Linked DNA regions of Homo sapiens: region 1 is linked to region 2. The links come from fine-mapping of genetic effects on plasma protein levels. A gene starts in region 2. The other region holds a variant in brackets. All regions are shown on one strand. Distances are between the middles of the regions.

Region 1 (5,000 bases), 47 kb after region 2:
GTTCCATAGAGTCATTCAGTGATCCAGATTATTTTCATCTGTTGCTCTGCCATTCTCCAGGATGTTGTCCCTATAAAATTGTCAAAGCTCAGTCAGTGCCAAACCCATGTTTCAACCTTCAGAAAGTAAACGAGTGGTGGAAAACACATTCAATGTTTTAAGGCCAAGACCTTGAAAACTCACTCTCTTAGCCTGAACTTAGATTACATGGCTGGGCCCACTTAACTATAGGGGAGGCTTGGAAACATAGTCTCTGAGAAGCCATGTGTCCAGCTAATTCCCTAATACTAAAGTTGAAAGAAAGAATGGATTAACCAGCAGTATACCACAAGGTAACAAATGACTAGGAGGATCAGGCTAGGTGGACTAGAAAAGAGACAGTCAATTCAGTGCAACAATTCCATATTGGCACTTTTCATGTAGCTGTTGCTTGGCTCTATCTAGAGAGGACTCAGAGGTAGTTTAGATAAGGCCTTTGCCCTCCAAATACAGTCTAAGCAGACTGATTTCCTACTGGATGTTCAACTTTGGAGTCTTCAGGGATGAGTAGGGCTTCTGTACGTGGAAGAGACTATGAGGGAACCTGCACAGGACAAGGGTTTGCATAAAGACACTGAGGTAGGGACCTCTCCTGTTGTGGGGACAGTGAGAGGCCCAGGTCTCCTTGACTCACAAAGTGCTTACTAAGCACTTACTAGAAATTAAGAAGCAGATTATAATCAATATGGGTTATCCAATGTTTGGATGAGCAAGGCTCCTTATCTTTTCTTCGTTAATGTTAATCACACTCTTTTGGATGGAGACAAATATCTGTGGGGGCTGAGCTTTGGGTCAGATAGATCTGGGTTTGCAATCCTGGCATTGACTTTTACTTAGCAGTGATGACCTCACATAGATTATTTAGCAACTCTGAGACTTACTTCCTCAACTCTAAAATGAGGGGCTCAGACTAAATAATGTCTAATCTCTTCTCCAGTAAAACAATCCGTGGTTCTCAGATAGCACTGTGCTGGAGGTAGTGGGGTTTGAGGGCTGGGAAGTTGGGAGGACTGAGCCCTTCCCGCTGAGCAGTTTCGTCCAGTTTTTCCTGTACCAGCCTGTCATGTTTATTCCATGTGAATGACTCCAGAGGCAAAATTCAAGCTTTTGAATAGGGCACAAATTAACTTGAGTACCCTTTCATTTCCCTGTAGGTGAACACTCCTCTAGCCCTGCCTTTTGTCAGTCTGGAGCCCTTGTTCTAATCTGTACACACCAGAGGACTTTACAAGGCTTTCCCCAGCCTCCAGAATTATTCTTCTGATCCACCCTCTACTAAACTCACCCTTTCCTCAGTGCTAGGACGTTGAAAAACCGAAACAAGGCAAAGGGCCAATTGTAATAATTCACACTAAGGCATGAGTGACTAGGTTTAGTATATTAACACTACCTAGGATATTCTATTTCTTCCAAAAGGATCCTGTTAATCCTTGAAATTTAACAACTAATGGTATAGATTCTAAGCACTGTGAGTACTTGTCAGTGGGGGAAAGACATTTTTGGGCTGAGAGACTTTGCCACTGGGAAGAGAGAGAGGATGAGGAGGAGAAGGGGGATAGGGAGGAAAAAGAGAAAAAAGAAAGAAAGATGATTAGATGATAGATGGATGGATTGATGGATGGATGGAAAAAAATAACATGAGAGAGTGGTAAAAAGCACAGAATCTGGAACCAGACTGTATCTTAGCTGGGTCACTTACTATGTAACTTAGGGAAAGCTTCCTAGTCTCTCTGTGCCTCCCTTTCTTCACCAGTGAAATGGGGATCATAGCAGAGCCAACTTCACAGAGTGGTTGCGAGGAGTGGATGAGCTGATAGGTGCAGAGCACTTAGAATAGGGCCTGGTGTGGAGTAAATGCTCCACAGAGCTAGCCGTGTTGGCTGTCACCCACTCATGTGGCCAGCCTGTTGGTCTACCTCTTAGTTGCCATGTAACAGGATTCTGGTGCTTTTCCTTTGCCCAGGTCAGATGGAACCCAGGACCCATCCAACTTGGCTGCTTCACATTTTCATCCCCTTCTGCATCATTGCTTTCATTTTCATAGCCACAGTGA[T/C]AGCCCTAAGAAAACAACTCTGTCAAAAGCTGTATTCTTCAAAAGGTAAGTGAGTTTTATTCATGGTAACCCAATGCACTGGGTGTCTGCAGCATGAGCCACTGCTTTGCACTGCAGGCCTATGGCTTGCTGCTTTCATGCTAAACCCACTCAGAGCTTATGAACCACTTTGAGCTTGTCTTGATGATTATTTTTCCCCAGAAGAAAATGGCTCTCATCGTCAGTGAGCTGAACTTCTTACACTGAGTTTTTTAAAGGGAATGTTTTGTTCTTATGTCTGAAAGAGTTTGTCTTATTCTTTGAGCCAAGAGCTTTCATCAGCCTCATGAGAGTGATGTTATTTTGGCAATGCAGAGAGCTACGTGCTCCGATTTTGCTGGTGGGAGGTTGCCAGGATCCTTTCTGAGGATTCCTTCCATTTTCACCCCTCTTTTCCCCAGTCTGGATATGACCTGGGTTAAACCCACCCCCTCTCCCAGGAATCTCAACCTCACGGTTGGGTAAGGAAAGGAGAAAGGTTTGTGAGGCCATTTGGGGATAAGGAAACAGCTGGTTGGTGGTGCATTAACGTCTTTCAGCAGCTCCCTTCGAGTTTCTCCTTAGCCTGTTGTATTCTTACCAACACACTCCTGTTCTGTTGTACCAGCTGGGACAGAGCATGCTGAAGCCTTTCAGCCCTGATTTCATTGCTTCATTGTTCATGTGTCTGTCTTTGGTTTCCTGGGTGGAGCCTGCCCACAAAACCCCCAGAATGTATGCAGGCCTAGCTGGTGCTTTCCTAAACGGCTCCCTTGTCTGCACTCAATGAACTTCTCCAAAGATCTATACATGGCCTCATCTATAGAAAGAGAAATGACATGTGGAAATAATTCAGTAGGAGTTTGCAGCAGCACTATCTGAGGACTAGGGGAATTTTAAGTGGTTGTTATCTTACATTTATACTCATAACTTCTATATTTTCATCTGCCATAAAATATTGTCATGTTCTATTTGTCCATTGCCCTATGTGTGTATGTATTCACTTGGGTGCTGACCACAATATTTCTAACTGTAGAATGCAAGGAATTGTTGCCAAAAGAAAAAGACAGAGGGAGGGAAGAAGATGGCCAGGGGAGTGAGGGAGAAAGAGAAAACAGGAGATGGAGAAGAAGAAAGATAGAAAGAAAAATAAATGTGGGAGGGAAGGGAGCTTCATGGTAAAGGAGGAGGTATGTCCAACAGAACTTCGACTTTTAAATAGAACCACTTCAGAGAGTTGTGTCAGGTGCACCTCAGTTGTCTTATCTTCTGCCATTCTTCTTTTACCTCTCACACCCATACCTCAGGGTTCAAGGCCTGGGGCCTGAGGACTCCTTAATAACTTCAGAAATGAGCAGCTGAGTGTTCCGTTCCAGCTGTCTTTGGGAGAATGGAATGGAGTCACACTCAAAGATAGAGTGGAAATAAATCCTCTCCTCATCCTTCACCCCAATCTTAAGAGTGAGTGAGGATATCAGTAGCTCCGAGCTGGGAGGTAAAGCTCAAGTTCTAACTGTGATTAGGAGACCTTTCTTACAAATAAGAATTAAGTGAATAAATGTGCAAACAATTTCTTTTATATTTTTAATGAACCAGAGAGAAATCATGGTTGCCTATATAACCCTTGTCTCCAACTCACTTGCATTCAGATCTGCTTTCTTACATGTGTCTGCCATGCACACAAACTTGTGTGCCATGGAAAAGGGTTGAGAACTGCTGGTGATGCAGACAGAGCTTTAAACCAGGGTCAGAGGGCTAGGCTGGGACCTTGTGCTGCCATTTGTTGGCTTTCTGACCTTGTACAAATTGCCTATCTTCTTTGAGATGGTCTTTCTATCTGTAAAAGGGGAAGCAGCAAGAGAAGGAACATTTTACAGCTTATTGGCCGAACTTCACTGCCGCTAGTGTGGTTCAACTTGGACTACAGAGAAATCTTCCTAACTGGTTTCCCTGTATTCACTCCTGCTACCTCCAACTTGGTCTGTTCTCACTTTTTGCTATAATAGGCTTTTAAAAATCATAAATCTACCATGTGTCCTCTGTCCAGACCTTCTCCATGGCTTCTTATTGCTCACTGGATGAAGTTCCAACGAGCCCAGGATGGTTTGACTCATGTCTCCAGCTTTAACTGCATCACCATCACCTTCATTGTCTAAAGCTCTAACCACACAGGATTTTCTAGTCCTCAGAGGCATGGCAGTCTTTCAATTCCGAGTTTTCTCATACAATATTGTCTCTTCTTAAAATATTTTTTCTTGTTGTCCACCTGAGTTGGAGTCATCTTTTAAATCTCAGCTAAGCTTATACTTCATCAAGTCTTTCCTAATTCTACCTCCACGCACCACACCCATTACATTAAATCCCCTTATTATATGTTTCCATAGCACCTACTTCTTCTTTCAGTATACTCAGCACACAATCACATGTCTAGGATCTGTTTTAATAGCTTGGACTACCAATTAAATTGCATCCCTTTTAATTTTCCAATTGATTCCTCAAGTACCCACATGCCCATCTTAGCAAGAAGTTCAGTGTCTCCCTCTTATAGCATGTACTTCTCCACCTCCCACAAACTGCCAGAAAGCTTACTTAGCCCACAGGGCCAGTGCTAGGCAGCTAGGTTAGTCCTCCAGAGGGCCCTGGTTTTGAGCAGTTGCTGTCTACTCCGGCCATGCAGAATCTCTGGTCCTTCCAGATGTCTCCATCCACTGTGCAAAGGTAACCTTGCTGGTTCCGATCCCCACACAGACCACAGTGCTACAAGATTACAGTTCTTATGGTTCCCCAACACATGCTCTGTCATTGGTCCCAAAGCAGGACCCCTATGGGTTGATGAGGTAGGAGGAGGTCCCTGCCTTAGCCACAGCTGCACACAGCCAGCCTCTTCCCT
Region 2 (5,528 bases):
ATGTAAATCATTCTATCACAAAGACACATGCACACACATGTTCATCATAGCACTATTCACAATAGCAAAGACATGGAATCAACCTAAATGCCCATCAACGACAGACTGGATAAAGAAAATGTGGTACATATACACCAAGGAATACTATAGAGCCGTAAAAAAGAGCATGTCCTTTGCGGGAACATGGATGGAGCTGGAAGTCATTATGCTTAGCAAATTAATGCAGGAACAGAAAACCAAATACCACATGTGTTCACATATAAGTGGGAGCTAAGTGATAAGAACACATGGACACAAAGAGGGGAACAACACAAACTGGAGCCTAGCTGAGGGTGGAGGCCCCAGGGAGGAGGGAGATGAGCAAAAAAAAAAAAAAAAAAAAAAAAAAAAAAAAAAAAAATGACTGGGTTCTAGGCTTAGTATCTAGGGGACAAAATAATCTGTATGACAAACCTCCATGACACGAGTTTACCTATGTAAAATAAAAGTTTAACAAAAAACTAAAAAAGTTACCTATGTAAAACAAAAGTTTAACAAAAAACTAAAAAAAGTTACCTCCACCCAGAAATGCCTTTATTAACACTTTGGTTTGTAACCCTCCATTATTTTCTCTAGACATATAGATTTATGAGGCAGGCTAATGTGCTGAGACACTAGCTTGAGTTTCATTTGGCCTTGCTGTGAATATACCTGGGCCTTCCTTTGCTTCAGGATGCCCTAAACTGTGGCAAAGCAGAGCTGAACTGCCCAAAGGAAAGTGTGAAGAGGAGAGGCAGGCCAAGCCTGGAGAAAGGCTACCCAAGAGAGAGGAAAGGAAACTGTGGTGAGTGCACCTCACTCCTAAAGAAGGACAGGAACTCTGGTAGGTGAGGTGTGTTTTCCATAGATACTAAAACTCAAAGCCACACAGGGGACATATGTCCATTCCTCAGCCAGTCACTGTGGCCAGGAACAGAGGGTCAGGTAAGAGAATGGCAACTCCTAAGGAAACCACATGCCTGGAGCCGTGGGTGTAGAAGCAGATCCCCAGAGGAAGCACGGGTCCCACAGACACAGTCCCAACTCTTGCCGTCTAGGCAGCCACTCCCATCTGTAGGTACTACACAGCTTCGTAGTACTTCTTAAAGTACTTCTTGTTCAAGCGATGGGACGAAAAGAGGATGCAGGACAAGGAGGAGGAAAGGAGATCCTTGCTTTTGTAGAAGAAACAAGGAGGCAGGGAAGGCTTAGAGGACAGGCAAGGAGAGATGTTTTCTTAAAAACATCCTCTGTCTGAGTGTTCAGCCCCACATCTCTGCTGGTCCTACCCCTATAAGCACAAGGAAAAGGGCGGGAGGCAGCAGGAGAAGGATTGATCATTCAGGCCTATATTCAAGTTTGCCTTTTCTTGCCATGTGGTTTTAATCTCACCAATCACAAGCCTGAAGGTATAGTGGGGCCACTGAGGTCCGAGTTCAAATTCAGCCATGCAACTAAGGAAACATTGTTTGATCTTGGTCCTGTTTTCTCATGTGTAAAATGGGTCTAACTCTAAACCACACATTGCACTGAGAATGAAATGAGGCACTATGAAATGAAGTGAGGTTAGTTGAATAATGTTCCCCCCAAATTCATGTCTACTGAGGACCTCAGAATGTGACTATATTTGGAAGTAGGGTCTACGCAGATGTAGTCTAAATGAGGTCATACTGCATTAGGGTGGGCACTAATCAAACGGATGGTATCCTCATAAGAGGAGAGGAATGTAGAGATACACACAGAAAAGAATGTCATTTGAAGATGGAGGCAGAGATTGGAGTGATACAACTATAAGTCAGGGAATGCCAAGGACTTGAGGTCATGTGTTACAGAAGCCCTAGGAAATGAGTCAATTTCCTGGCACAGCACTAAGACATGCTGGTATTCTTCATTCCATCCCTTTCCCCTATTCCTAAATGTGCTCCAGGGACAATGGGGAAGCTGGAGCACATATAAGAATAGGGGAAAGAGAGGGAATAAAAGGGTATTAAAAACTCTCAAGGTATGTTAAAAAAAAGACTCTCAACAAACCAGGTATTGAAGGAACATACCTCAAAATAATAAGAGCCATCTATGATGAACCCACAGCCAACATCACACTGAATAGGCAAAAGCTGGAAGGATGCCCCTTGAAAACCGGCACAAGACAAGGCTGCCTTCTCTCACCACTCCTATTCACCATACTATTGGAAGTCCTGGCCAGAGCAATCAGGCAAGAGAAAGAAAGAAAAGGCATCCAAGAAGGAAGAGAGGAAGTCAAACTACCCATGTTTGCAGATGACATAATTTTATATCTAGAAAATCCCACAGTCTCAGCCCAAAAGCTCCTTAAGCTGATAAACTTCAGAAAGTTTCAGGATCCCACATGAACATACAAAAATCACTAGTATTCCTAAACACCAACCATAGCTAAGCCAAGAGCCAAATCAGGAATGCAATCCCATTCACAGACAAACTGCTAAAAGCAAAACCAAAACTTTCCAAATAAGCCAGGCTTTCGTCAGTTCCTCAGAACTAGTTCTGGTTTGACTCACTCTCATGTTACGGCAAACCTTAAGCTGAATGAACAACTTTTCTTCTCTTGAATATATCTTAACGCCAAATTTTGAGTGCTTTTTTGTTACCCATCCTCATATGTCCCAGCTAGAAAGAATCCTGGGTTGGAGCTACTGCATGTTGATTGTTTTGTTTTTCCTTTTGGCTGTTCATTTTGGTGGCTACTATAAGGAAATCTAACACAAACAGCAACTGTTTTTTGTTGTTTACTTTTGCATCTTTACTTGTGGAGCTGTGGCAAGTCCTCATGTGAGTAACGAGTGGGTTGAGATACTCTCATACTATTATGTTGTGGACCATGATGAGGCTGCCAGGGTGGGGGAAGGGTGGCCTACCTTCTCTCCACACCATTTGAGGCAAGAGACATTCTGCCTCAGAAATTGTGCTGAGGGGCACAAATAAGCTAATGTCCTCCTGCCCCAGATTTCTCTCACTTGTTCCTATGCATATTGTTCTTGTTGCTCAGTTTTATAAGGTGAGATATTTTCTGCACCAAATATGTGCACTGTAAAATAATATAACTATTCTTAAGATTGTCTCTCAGCTTAGAGTTTTCGGAGGCTTAATGGTGAAGAACTTAAAAATCTGTTTTCCTATGACTGACATCTGTTTGTGATTATCCATTTAGCAGACGGTGATCCCTCCAGGCTGGCCTTTGTTTACAAGCTATGCCTAAGAGGCAGCTGTTGGTGGAGGGGGAACAAAAACAAAAAACCCAAAACTATTATCTTAATAACTTATAGAGGTAATCATTATTGAACAAAAGCATGATTTGGGGACTATGGAAAGGCTTATTCTTTCCATATAAAATGATCAGCGAAAAGGTAGAAAAATTAAACAGAACTGAAATAATTGCTATTGATTGCTCACCGCCTGGATGCACTGAGTAGAAGAGCAAAGGCAATGGGTTCATGTGGAGGGGATGGAGGTGGAGAGGCTAAGCCTGAGTGAGATTACCAACTAATCAGGACTTTTAACCCAAAAATACTATGGCTCTGAGGGGCAGGGAATGAGAGACCTAAATTGACAAAATGCAGAGTAAAAATATTCAGTGTGAGCAGTAATGAGACAGTTGTATCAGGGTCAAATACGGAGTTGGCCTGGATGTCCTCCAAGCTCCTTTCCAAGCCTAAGATTCTGTGAGTGGATGAACAATCCTGGTCCTGCTGCTCTTGCCACTGGAACCTGATCTATTTGCCTTCATTATTTGAGGTCTCCCCATCATCAGGCTCTTTGTTGTCTGCTGCTTCAGGGTGTCTTCTCCCCAGATTTCTCCTGTTGGTGAGCTTTTCCATTGAACTGGAGCTCCTCACAGGCAAGAAGCACACCTTTAAGGTTCTCTGAGTCCCAAGTTCCTAGTGCAGTACCTGGCAATACACATAGGTGCTTAGTGGGTGCTTGCCGAATTGTTGAATGGATTTATTTGATGAAATGTCAGGAGAATCACCAGAAATGAAATGTTCGTGTAATGGACAGGGGGAAGTTTGAGGTTGATTTGAAAAAGGAGATGGTAGAGACAGTATTATGGGTCATGCTTCAGAGTTTATTTGCTTTACAATACATTGGACAGCAACCAGTAGATTGTTGTGTGTCATTTTAATTCCACATGCTAATGTCCAAATATGTCATATGTCTTAATTGTTGCATACGTGGGTTACTCTGTAAAGGGGCAACTGTAGTATCACCTCCTCATGCCACACCCTGCTCCACTGTAGCTGGGCTCGATAACCTTCAAATCAACTCACAGAATTCCAGGACAGACAAGAGCATCTGAAAGGTTATCTAGCCCCAGTCACCTCTGATGCCTTCCAGCTGTCTCTAACACACCTGTGGGCTGACTTCCAGTTCTTAGTCTTCACGGCTCCCTATGATGAACTGCCCCTGCTTTGAGGGATTTTCCTCCATTGCCTCAGAAGTACTGCCCTGGGGGAGCTTCTGATGCTCTTCTGACCACCTTGTCTCTGCCTTTTTCACTAGTCCTCTGTTCCTGCTCTCCAAATTTTGGGACGTTCCTGAGTTCAGATCTTTTCTTTATAATCTTTCTTTTATATTCTCCCCATCAGATGGTTCATTCATTCCTCAATATTAACTAACATTTCCATATTAGAAATAACTTCCTTATCTTTAGCCCTAAATTTTGTCCCAAACTCTGGACCTACAATTTTTTGGAATGCTTATGCCTTGCCCAGACTAAAACCAAACTTACTGTCTTCCCTCTAAAATCAGCTCCCCATCTTCTATTTCTCCCTGCCACCCTTCCTCCCCCATGGCTCCAATATTGTCTTGCCAGTCTGGTCTTAAAACCACAGTCAATCTTGTTGCTTTTCTCTTTGTCTCTTGTGCATGGCTGATCAGCAGTCAATTGTTTTGTCAATTGTCTTATATGTTTCTTCTTCCTCTTCCTTGCTTCCTTTTTCTGACCTGAAGTTAGGGCCTTGTTACCAAACATCTAGATGAATACAGTGACCCCCTAATTGAGAGGCTGTCTACCAATTCCACCCACCCTCAATTCTATACTCAAAAAAAAAATTAGATGTAATCTTTTTCAGATACTCCTTTGGTATTGTCACTTAGTTTTTGAGTGACTGCCACTATTTCCCGATTGGCAGCTCTGCCTGGCATTAAGCTCTTGACATTCTCAACCTAAGTGTCCAGCCAAGTTACTCTGTTCATTGTCCCCTCAACACGCCTGTGCATTTGCACCTCTGAGACTGCTTCTGAGTCAGCTATGCACTGCCCTTTAGAATAGCTTCAACCCCAAATCCTACCAGTGCTTCAAAGGCCCAGTTCAAATCCTACCCCTCTGGGAAGTCTCCCTTCCTTTAGTCAACTTCTAGGGCTTTTGCAATTTTATCACTTGTTTTACATCAGTTTTACTATTTTTCATGTGTGAGAGTTTTAACCTTCCAATTATGGTACAATGTCTTTAAGGGCAAGGGCCCTTTCTTAGAGGA

What was found. PIP is the posterior inclusion probability: the model's chance that the variant is causal. Sun 2018 read protein levels with aptamers (SomaScan).
Region 1: its variant is fine-mapped to the plasma level of the PDCD1LG2 protein (Sun 2018, PIP 0.95). The variant lies in the coding sequence of PDCD1LG2. If it changes the protein, the assay may bind it differently, which can mimic a change of level.

The regions. Positions count from the first base shown.
Region 1 is chr9:5,555,616-5,560,615 of GRCh38, forward strand. PDCD1LG2 (programmed cell death 1 ligand 2) reads left to right here. Exons shown (of 7, transcript NM_025239.4): 5 at 2,003-2,137. All of the region lies in intron 1 of INCR1 (interferon stimulated noncoding RNA 1), which reads right to left. Among named protein-coding and RNA genes, the nearest start is that of PDCD1LG2, 48 kb to the left of the region's middle. The variant T/C (reference allele first, on the strand shown) is at 2,093.
Region 2 is chr9:5,507,981-5,513,508 of GRCh38, forward strand. It overlaps PDCD1LG2 (programmed cell death 1 ligand 2), which reads left to right and starts at 2,551. Exons shown (of 7, transcript NM_025239.4): 1 at 2,551-2,823. The region is part of intron 2 of INCR1 (interferon stimulated noncoding RNA 1); the gene reads right to left. RefSeq lists enhancers at 1,099-2,298, 2,240-2,319, 2,380-2,439, 2,600-2,649.